Regions from separate parts of the Homo sapiens genome. Here region 1 is linked to region 2. Evidence: fine-mapped expression QTL. A gene starts in region 2. The other region holds a variant in brackets. All regions are shown on one strand. Distances are between the middles of the regions.

The links. PIP is the estimated chance that this variant, and not a neighbour inherited with it, causes the effect.
Region 1: its variant is fine-mapped to the expression of PXN in whole blood (TOPMed, PIP 0.98).

The regions. Positions count from the first base shown.
Region 1 is chr12:120,230,384-120,235,750 of GRCh38, forward strand. The region is part of intron 1 of PXN (paxillin); the gene reads right to left. Among named protein-coding and RNA genes, the nearest start is that of PXN-AS1, 32 kb to the left of the region's middle. RefSeq lists enhancers at 1-188, 630-1,829, 1,309-1,868, 1,869-2,428, 3,549-4,108. The variant C/T (reference allele first, on the strand shown) is at 2,528.
Region 2 is chr12:120,263,156-120,268,522 of GRCh38, forward strand. PXN (paxillin) reads right to left here and starts at 2,575. Exons shown (of 15, transcript NM_001385981.1): 1 at 2,462-2,575. The coding sequence starts at 2,474. RefSeq lists silencers at 2,293-2,442, 2,603-2,882.

The DNA of each region.
Region 1 (5,367 bases), 33 kb before region 2:
AAGGGAGGTTCCCAACCCCCTGATGACCACCTGGGCAGCCTTGGTAGCTCTGAGTGTCAGAGAAGCTGCGGCCTCCTTACAGTTGCCCACGCTCAGGGATATAAGCAGTGAGCAGGGCTTGGCCCTTCCTAAGGAAGGAGCTATGTAAACAGCAGGACCAGCTCAGGGATGGTCTCATCTCAGCCCCTTTGGTGAGACTCTTCCAGATTAGGAAGGAAAACAGAACGGGAAGGCGGGTCTCCCCCCTCCCCCTGGCTCCAAGTTCCCCTCCCCTCCCCCAGCCCAGAGCACATGAGCAGTTAGAGCAGAGGTAATCTAATCCGCAGCGGGGTGCTTTCACTCGGTGAGTAAGTCCCCAGGAATGGTGAGCTGGGTATATTTATCCTGATAACCGTCTGTCCTCAGTAAGGGCCAATCCACAATTAGGCCAGATCCACTCTGCCCCACCCACCCCCAGCCCAGGGACCTAGGGCCTGGACACTGACTAGGAACTCAGTCTCCTTGAGGGGCCTTCCCTGCCAATTTGGGTTCTTGTCAACTGTCTCCTCTCCAAGAATTAAGCTCCAGAGAGCAGGGGCCTTGTCGGTCTTGTTCGATGCCATATCCCCAGCAGCTAGAATGAATGGCTGAATGACAGAGGGGCTGTGAAGAGGAGGAGGATGGGGAAGCAGCAGTGAGCAGAGCAAACAGCCAGTGCGGAGGAGGGGAGCCAGGATGCCCTGATCCCAGGCCCAGCGGATGAGTGGGGGCCCCTCAGCGGATCCTCTAACCTCTCTGGATGTCTTCTCTATCAAGAAAATGGGCAGAACCCGATTTGTCCCCATTCCTAGTAGCATGCTCTGAGGAGATAATACAATTATGGGTGAGATTTATATAGCACCTTTGAGCTCTTCCGAGTTAGTCTAAATCCAAGATTCTGCTATTATCTGAATCCCAGACAGGAACTGCTCTGCTAAGAGGATGGATGAGAAACGATCAATACCATAGTGTCATTTAAATATTTAATAGCCATGCCTGGAGGTTACAAAGACTCAGCCACCAATTCTCCTCCGCTGACTCATGCCTCACTCAACAGGAACTGCATTTTACCCTTACAGCCCTGAAGGAAGTGTGGGCTGGGGGGTGACACACAGGAAGCCAGGGGAGAAGGCCCAGGAGTCTTCCAGTCAGCCGCCAGGGGAGGAGGGGGTGGTCATTTGGATGAAGTGGTTCTTCCCCAGGCTTCCTACAGGCCTAGCTTAGGAGGGTGGCTTCCTGTATGCTGAGGAGCTCTTCCTTGCAGAGGGTGACACAATATGAGTGTGCAGACAGACTGGCTTTATTGGCTGCCTGGCTTGTGCCCAAGGTCACAGGGCACAGGTAACCAGAGACCTGAGAAAATAATGGCTGCAAGGCAACTCCAGCAGTCACCCTGAGCTCCAGGCAGAAGACCAACTGTGCCAGGCCCATCTGCACCAGGCACACACAAGGCCCACCCATCAGGCTCCTGGCTGCAGCCACTTCCCCATCAAATTGGGCTCCAGGAGCTTAAGCAACAGCAGGTGAGACAAGGCTGCCCAGGTTGACTCTGAGCACTTCTATGCATCTGCCTTAGGCTACAGACACAGGAGTTCAGGCCAGGCTGGCCAAACACCAGAGTCTTTCTCTTCTTTTTTTCTTTTTTTGAGACAAGTCTTGTTCTGCCACTCAGGCTAGAGGCCTGATCACAGCTCATTGCAGCCTAGAATTCTTGGGCTCAAGGGATCTTCCTGCCTCAGCCTCCCGAGTAGCTAGGACTAAAAGCACATGCCACCACACTAGGCTTTTAAAAACTTTTTTGTAGAGACAGGGTCTCACTATGTTGCCCAAGCTGGTCTTGAACTCCTGGCCTCAAGCCATCTTCCTGCCTGGGCCTTCCCAAAGTGCTGAGATTACAGACAGGAGCCACCATGCCCATCCCCAGAGTCTCTTTCATATTGTAAATAACTCATCTCTCCTGTCCAGAATCAGTGGGCCCTCCCTCCTCCAGAGGTCCCAGAACATTGTGGACACATTTCATTGGTCAGATGTCATCCACCTCTTTAGGTCGCCCAGAGATGCTAGACCTTTTCAGGTCAAGTCCAGGGCCCCATTCCAGGCCCAACTCACAGCTCCTTCAATGGGTAAAACCCAGATTCACATACAAAAAAGACAGCCTCAAACCCAGGAGACTCATGGGCTGGAAAGGTTCTCAGCTGTTCCAAATCGACCCCAGCCCATTCCTGCAATCTGGGCTCTTCCAGGCAAGTTGATCTGTTGCAGAGCAGGGCGGCTCCTTGGGCCTCTCACCCCTGCTAATCACCAACAGAGGTTAGGAGGGGCTCAAAGTGAGTCATCGTCCCACAGAGACCCGAACAAAAAGTTCAAAAGTTTGCCTGTTCCTGAGATGAGCTGCAGTTTTTTTGCGATTTTTGTGGATTTCATAGCATTAGTTACCCACTCTTTGCTAATCAGGTTCTCACTAACCAGCCAGCACCTTCCCCTTTTTTCAGGCAGCAAGGTCATTTCC[C/T]GAAGTCAGCTCTCGCTTGCCTGACTTCCCCAGTTCTCTTTTCTAAGTCCCTTTAATAGCTCCCACATTTAGCTGGTCACTAAGTCACATCAATTCTTCCTTCGCGGGGCCTCTCCCTGTCATCACTTGCCTCCCTTTCCTTTCATCACCACAGCCAACCACTTGGACTAGCATTCGAATCCATGCTCAGTGCCTACCTGAACTTGACTGCAGCCCCCTGCCCTGGGTTCTCCCAATCTAACGCTTCCTGCACACACCATCGGCCCGAACTTCTTGGCACCCAGCCTTTTTGGGGCATGCCTCACACTTCACTCTTGCTTCTCCCCCTAGACTGCAGGTCCTCTGTGGGCAAGAACATCCTCCTGCTCCTGAATCCCCACAGCATGGATACCCTCATAGGCCTCCTTTTTTTTTGAAATGGAGTCTTGCTCTGTCAACCAGGCTGGAGTGCAGTGGCATGATCTCAGCTCACTGCAGCCTCCACCTCCCGGGTTCAAATGATCCTCCTGCCTCAGTCTCCCAAGTAGCTGGAACTACAGGTACACACCACACCTGGCTAATTTTTGTATTTTCTTAGTAGAGTCGAAGTTTCACATTGTTGGACAGGCTTGTCTCGAACTCCTGACTTCAAGTGATCCACCCACCTCGGCATTCCAAAGTGCTGGGATTACAAGCATAAGCCACTGTGCCCGGCCCTCACAGGCCTCTTAGAGGGGCTTGAATGAATGTGTGCAGAGCAAGGGGTGGAGTTATAATACTCACCCACTGTTGCCCTCTCTGCCTATAAAACAAGGTCAGAAACCCTGGGGATGGCATTCTGTTCTTGACCCTCTCAGAATATGGCCCCAAACTAACCTTCACTGCCTCCTTGGTCCCCCTCACTGCAACCCATGTCTCCAGCCAAACTGGACTCCCCGCTTCCCTTTTTGCCAGCGTGCCTTTCTTCACAATACTGAATGTGTCCCACCACTACCTCTATCATCATTCACCTGGTTTGAGCCTCTCGCACAAGGATATCCATACCCCCAGGGGACAGATGGAAGCCAGGGGTACAGGAAGCCACCTCAGGATAAACCCAGAACACTCTGAGGATCAAATGTACTCAGGGGCAAGAAATGTAAATCATTGTCTTAAAACAAACAAGGCTACATTATGGAGTCAAATGCAAAATGCAAGTGAAATCGTAAGATAAAAAGAGAGGCTTCAAGGCCTGCATGGTGGCTTATGCTTGTAATCCCAGCACTTTGGGAGGCCGAGACAGGGAGATTGCTTGAGGCCAGGAGTTCGAAACCATGTTGGCCTGGCCAACATGGTGAAACCTCATCTCTACTCTACTAAAAATACAAAATTTAGTTGAGCATGGTGGTGCATGCCTGTAATCCCAGCCTCTTGGGAGGCTGAGGCAGGAGAATGGCTTAAACCCAGGAGGCAGAAGTTGCAGTGAACAGAGATTGCGCCACTGCACTCCAGCCTGGGCGACAGAGTAAGACTCTGTCTCAAAAAAACAAAACAAAAAAAACAGATAAGATTTTGCTCTTGGGGACTTTGGCAAACAATTTTAAGCAGCACCACAAAGCCCCCACTGTCCACACATAAAACCACCCCTGCCCATATCACAGATTTGGCTGGTCTGCTGTCGTTGGGAGCTAGGATGGTCACACAGTTCTTTGGACACCCTCTGGGCATCCCACCTGCATGGCAGTGTGGTAGAGTGGAAGGAATGGGCCATCTAACAGTGAGGAGGATGGGTTCAAATCCGCCACTCACTAGCCTGGGTGACCAGTGACTAGATAATTCTGGGCTTTAGTTTACTCAGGCACCTCATAGCGCACAGTGAGTAATGGATGAAAAAGAATGTGAGAGCCATCCTGGTGGCTGGGATAAAATAAACGTAAGCCTCCCACTCTGACACACAGGAGACACTCAGTCAATAGATCCACATCACTGATTTTCATCTCCCTTAAGGCCAGCAGGGGGAGGAGTCGGAGCCAGGGACTGCAGCCAGGGATCCTGGGAGCTGTGACAGGTTGTCACTAACTCAGCCTTCTTGCTGAGCAAACCACTGACCTCACCCTTTGTGTCTCGGGTTCATTCCAAGTCCTCCTTGGAGAACATCAGCTGAGCCCAGGCGCCTCCAACTCACTGCCTAGCAAGGACAGAGGCAAGCGAGGGAAGCTGCAGGGCCCCAACGCCTCCACCCCCACCCCATCCCTACTGCCTGCCGGGAAGTCACAGCTGTCTGAGAGGCCTGTGGCTTTGAACCCAGAATCGCAACAATAGAAGGAACTGCCCAAGCTCCATGGTAGCTCCCAGAGGAACCCAGGAGAGAGCAGCCTCTGCTCCTGCCACGGAAGCTCTGAGCCCAGCAGAGTGCCAAAAAGGGATCCAAAGACGGGGCTGCGAGGCTAGAAAGCAGCTCAGGAGGGGGTGAGGAGTGGAACAACCCTTCCTGAGCATCTACCAGGAGCCCAGCCTTGCAGCCCCATTTGTTGCCAGGGATTAGAATGCAGACACCCAGAGCCGCCCCATAAGGCCCCACGAGGACTGCGCTGCCTGACTGCAGAGATCACCCATGTTCTTCCCAGGATGCCCCACAAGGAGAGGAATGATCGCTTTCAGCAGCTGTCCGTCCTCTGCTCGTCACCACTCTCCACTCCCACAACACACATCCCCAGAGCCCCCAGAGGAATCCAAAAAGGCGGGCCTGCTGGGTTCCGCTCTACTGCTGCCCACTCCAAGTCTCCTGTTCTCTTTTCTTTCTGCCTCCTCCTCACCCTCTGCCTCAGGAGGGGTCTTGAGCCACAGAGGAGCCCCTAGTGGTGGTACAGAGAGCTCAAGAA
Region 2 (5,367 bases):
TGGGCTTTGTGTCCACCCTAAGGAAAACAGCTGAGCCACCCTAAGGAAAACAGCTGATGGCAGTGTGCTGAGCCGCCATCCAGACAGCTGACGGGGCCCCAGTGCAAAGGCAAATTCCTCTCCCCTCCTGCACACCCCATTCCTCCCACCCCAGGCTCCGGTCAGTCAGGCGTGGCTTGCCCCTTGGGAGCTCAGGCCAAGGAAGTCGGGCAGCCCGGATGTAAGCAACTGGGAGTCTATGGTAGAAAGCAGTAGAAGTTACAGGTGATCGCCATCACCCAGTGGCAACCCCTCCTTCAAGTGCCCTTGCCTCCTCCCCAGGAAAAAAAGTCTTCTCGGTATACAAGAGCCACAGATCTGGGAGCTAGGAATTGGGCTTCCAGTTATGGTTTTGTCATTTCATGGCTGTGCAGCCTTGGGCAAGAGAATCAGCCTCTCTTCGTCTCGGCTTTCTCAATCTGTAAAAAGGCAGGTGGTCATGACAGCATTGGCTTTAAGGTGGAATCTGATAAAAGGGTTGTTGTGAGGATATCACAAATCGAGGTAGAGGGAAGTACTCCACAAACAGCAATTTAAATCCCTACAATCCCCTCTCCCGTATACAGTACTCTCTTTCCTTTCAGAACTCAGTTTCCTGGCCCTAAATGGAAGACTGTCAGAAGACAGGAATTCCAGATTTCGATGGCGAGCTCTACAAAGACTTTCTCAGTCCTTGAAACAGCACGGGGACTGCCGAGAAGCAACAGAACTGCACCAGCACTTTAGAAACTGTAACTTTGCTCCCAGTTCCCACTGGGAAAGCACTCAGACTCTTAGATCCTGGTTCAAAGAACATCCCCCAGCCTCCTTCCAGCTGAGCTATTTTTATGTGAAAAAAAAAAATACCTGCCTGGAAGCCATGCCAACCTTGAGCACACTGGAAAAATGGGTGCCAAGCCTGACCCAAAGGCAGAACCACGCTTGGCAGCCATCTCACTCTGCAAAACAGGCAGGACCCTACACCAACCCCAGCTCCAGGATCTCAGGGGCACCCTGATCCCAAAAGGAAGCTGGAGGGAAGCAGTCAAGTCCAGCACCTACAAATAGCCAGTCTTAACTTAGTGCCCGGCGCTGCTTGGTAGAGGTCCATCAGTCCTGTCTGCTGAATCTACTCCTCAGAGCCTGGGACAGAGGAAGCATCAGTGGTCACACAAGCCACCCACAGTCCAGAGAGGAAAGACAAGGCTCCTGCAGAGAAGAAACGTTGCCCCCCTCCTCACCTCCCAAGCTCAGGGCCCTCCAGCTACAGGCGTGAAGGGGAGGGAGAGACAGCGAATCCTCCCACTCCTGCGTTCACGCCACCCAAGGCATTCCTAGAACCCTGGCACCAACCCCCTTGGGTTTAGAGTCGGCTTCCAGGAGATACTTTCTTTCCCCTAACACCAGATCAAGACTGGACTGAAAAGAGTAGCCTTGGGGCTCCAATAACAGGAAAACAGTAAAACTCTGTTCTGGGCATCCTGTCCTCTTTCACCTGCGTGGCTTCCAGCAGGGCCTGACGCAGAGAGGGTGGAGGGGACTCTGCTAGCCAGGACACGTTCAGGGATGGTCATACCTTGGGGCCCACCTTCCACCTCATTCCCCTGGCATTTCACCAGAATCTAGGGGTGGGGAGAGAATCAGGACTCCCAAATTACCGTTCTAGACTTAGATACCATGGTAGACGGACTGGTCTGTGAATTGAGGGGCTGGTCCACAGAGCGGGGAGGTCAGTGAGAGAAAATGAGTGATGGGTCCTTGAAACGGGGTGACCAGATTTGAAGTGGGGGGTCAGAAGAGCAGGCAGACTGGGAAACTTGTCTTTGAAATGGGGGTGTGGTCATCACACGCTCATCTCTAGCTTTTGCATCTGACTTGTGAAATGAAAGGGGTGGGCTCCGAGGGGTTATCCCTGAAGGGGGGTGCTAGTCTGTGAAGTGGGGGGCGGCCCTGGAGGGACGGGGAGCAGGTCGAGGAAATGAGGGAGCAGCCCATGAGATCGGGCAGCTGCTCCCCGAGTTGGGCGGTCGATCTGTGAGGTGGGGGTGGGGAGAGGTCTGCGAGGTGAGGGTCCCGTAGCTGACGAGGTGGTCTGCCGCAGGAAGTCTCGTCCCTGCAGCGGACGGGGTGGGTCCCTGAGGGGCGGGCTGGTCCCTGGGGCCCTTCTGGGAGATGGTGATGGGTCCCCGAGGTCGGGGGTCCAGAGGTGAAGCCGTCCCAGACGGGGGGTCGCTGCTGTGCGGTCGGTGCCGGGGCCGGCCTGGCCCGAGACTAAGGCCCGGTTAGGGATCCCAGCCCCGCGGAGCCCCGGCCGGCAGGGACAGGAGCTGAGGCCGGGGCCGCCGAGGGTGGGATCCCGCGGCCCCTGCCGCTCGCTGGCGCCCTCCTGGCCCCAAGCTGCGCGCCTCTCGCCTCCTCCTCCCTCGGCCTCCCGCTCACTCACCGAGGTCGTCCATGGCCGGACCACGGGCGCCGGCTCAGGGTCGCGCTAGCTGCCCGTCCCGGGGCCGCTCGTCTATGCCCCGCAACTTTTCCGCCGCGAGCCTCGGCCCGGAACGGAACGCGCCGCCGCCGCGCGCGCCCGCGCCCGCGCCCGCCGCGCGCCCCGCCCCCGGCCGCCCCCTGTGCACGCGCGCCCCGCCCCCGGACACCCCCGCGAGCTTGCTGGCCCCGCCCCCTGCGCACGCTGGTCCCGCCCCCGCCAAGAGCCCGGGCAGTGGGCGTCGCTGGGCGGGGCGGTGGCGCCCCCTCGCGGCTAAGCGGGCAGGTGGGCGGCTCCCAGGCCTCCAGCCACTCCCATCCATCTTTCTGTCCCTCTCAAAGTCACTTGCCTGACCCTGCGGATGACAAATCCGTCCACAGTCAGCCATGTGTCTGTGCATTCGTCAGCCACTGGGTCATCACATGCCTGTCCACTGGACAGTCAGTTTTGCCCACCTGTCCGTCTGTCACCTGTAGGTCACCACCCAGGAGGACCATAAATCAGTACCAGGCAAGGCCCGGAGCCCGTGGCTGACCTTTCCTGGGGTCGTCCTCTGGATCAATGGCAGTGCAGCTCGCAGTTCACCCTTTCTGGCCCAAACCCAATACCTGTGTGGTTCCATCTCTCTTAATATTACTTCCACACAGCCACCCTCCCTAGACACTTTTCCAAAACTGCATGGGGCAGAGGGGTCCCCAGATTAGACATTAAAGGGAAAACTACAGGAAAGTCACACCCAGTGCTCCCACACACTCGGAAATTGGGTAATAATAACAACTACCATTTATTGAGTGTCTGAATAGACAGACACTATATAGCTATTCTCTAAATTAATCCTCCTAGAGGTACTTCCCTACCCGTTGGGATGGGTGATGGCAGTTTGTGGATTTTATATAAAACTGCTCTGCAAGTACAGCTTCGAGTTCCCCTTGTCCCTCAAGAATCCAGGCCTTCTGGGTCAGATCAGGTCCTCCAGAAAGCAGATGAGATGCTGAGATAAAGCTAGGGGTAATGCCCGTGACAGAGAAGGGGAAATAAGCAGGGTTGGGCAAGGAGACTCAGATCTGACAAACAGGTCAACCCATCAGGGAATTCCAGGACAAAAAAAATGAGAAGTCTCCTTGGGCAGAAGTATCCGGGTTCCAATGCTCCCACCATGTTCAGTCATTTTATAAAGGCAGATCCAAGCAGCTTCTGTGGCTGCCACATTCTCCTATAATAAATTCAAGACCAAAGACTGTTCCTCAAACACTCTATTGCGTGGTTTTCCAGCATCTTGCACATACCTCTATTTTGTTTTAGTTTTTGTGTTTTTGTTTTTGTTTGAGATGGAGTCCCAATCTGTCGCCCAGGTTGGAGTGCAGTGGTGCAATCTCAGCTCACTGCAACCTCCGCCTCCCAGGTTCAAGTGATTCTCCTGCCTCCTGCTGGGATTACAGGCGCATACCACCATGCCTGGCTAATTTTTGTATTTTTAGTAGAGATGGGGTTTCACCATGTTGGCCAGGCTGGTCTTGAACTCCTGATCTCAGGTGATCTCCTGCCTCCTGGTGGGATTACAGGCGTGTACTACCATGCCTGGCTAATTTTTGTATTTTTAGTAGAGACAGGGTTTCACCATGTTGGCCAGGCTGGTCTTGAACTCCTGACTTCAGGTGATCCGCCCCCCTCAGCCTCCCAAAGTGCTGGGATTACAGGTGTGAGCCACCACGCCCAGCCTGTTTTTGTGTTTTTAAGACACAGTCTTGCTTTGTTGCGTAGGCTGGGATGATGAATAAGACTAACATGATGTCTACCTTCTTGAATCTAAAGGTGCACGCAAAAGAGCAAAGTGGTTAGCATGAAGGATGAGTAGCCTCGCCCCACTCCCAGCTGTGTGGAACAGCATGTGCAAAGGTCTGTAGACAAGACATTTAATACTGACCACAAGCCTAGGAGATGAGCATTGTTAGCCCCTTTTACAGCTGGAAGAGTTGAGAGTCAGAGGTTGAATTACTCCAGGTCATACAGCTAATAAGTAAGGAAACTGAGATTTGAACCTGGGGAGGCTTATGCCAAGGCCTGGTTATGAAACGGCTAAGTGAAACTGCTAACAACTTAGACCAACCCCAGGGCATACGCTTGTCCACTTCTCCAAAGGTCTAAAACCTTTCTTTTTCAAAGCTGTGTGGTCTGGAAATGCGAGGCACCCATTGAATGGGCAAGTTTCCCATTGCTATGCAGAGTTCTAAAGAGAACTGAAGCTTCAGAGTTGAGTGCTGGTGCACTCGAACACTCAGGTCCCTGCCAGGGATTTCCTCATGTAAATCATTCCTAAACCCCCATTTCCTCCCTGGCTTCCTTCTTCCCTTGGACTCTCACCCCACAGCAATTAAACTTGGTGTCTAGTTCAGGCTGCTACAACAAAATACTGTAGACCGAGTGACTTATAAACAACAGAAATTATTTTTTCACAGTTTTGGAGGCTGAAAGTTCAAGATCAGGGTGCCAGCACAGTCAGGTTCTGGTGAGGGCCCTCTTCTGGGTTGCAGACTGTTGACTTTTTGTACCCTCACACGGCTCAAAGAGGGTCCCTTTAATAAAGGCACTAACTAATCTCTTTCATGAGGGCCCTGCCCTCATGACCTAATCACCTGTCAGGCCTCACCTCCTAACACTATCGAATTGAGATTAGATTTCAACATATGAATTTTCAAGGATATGAACATTCAGTCCCTTGCATTTGATAAAATCAATCAGGTTTTTTCATTCTTCCTAAAGATTAAACGACATTGACAGAGCAGATGGACAACCCTGCTGACTTCTTGCTAGTGGTTCATCTTGGGCAATTTACTCTGTGCCTCAGTTTCTTCCCCTATAGAAAGGTT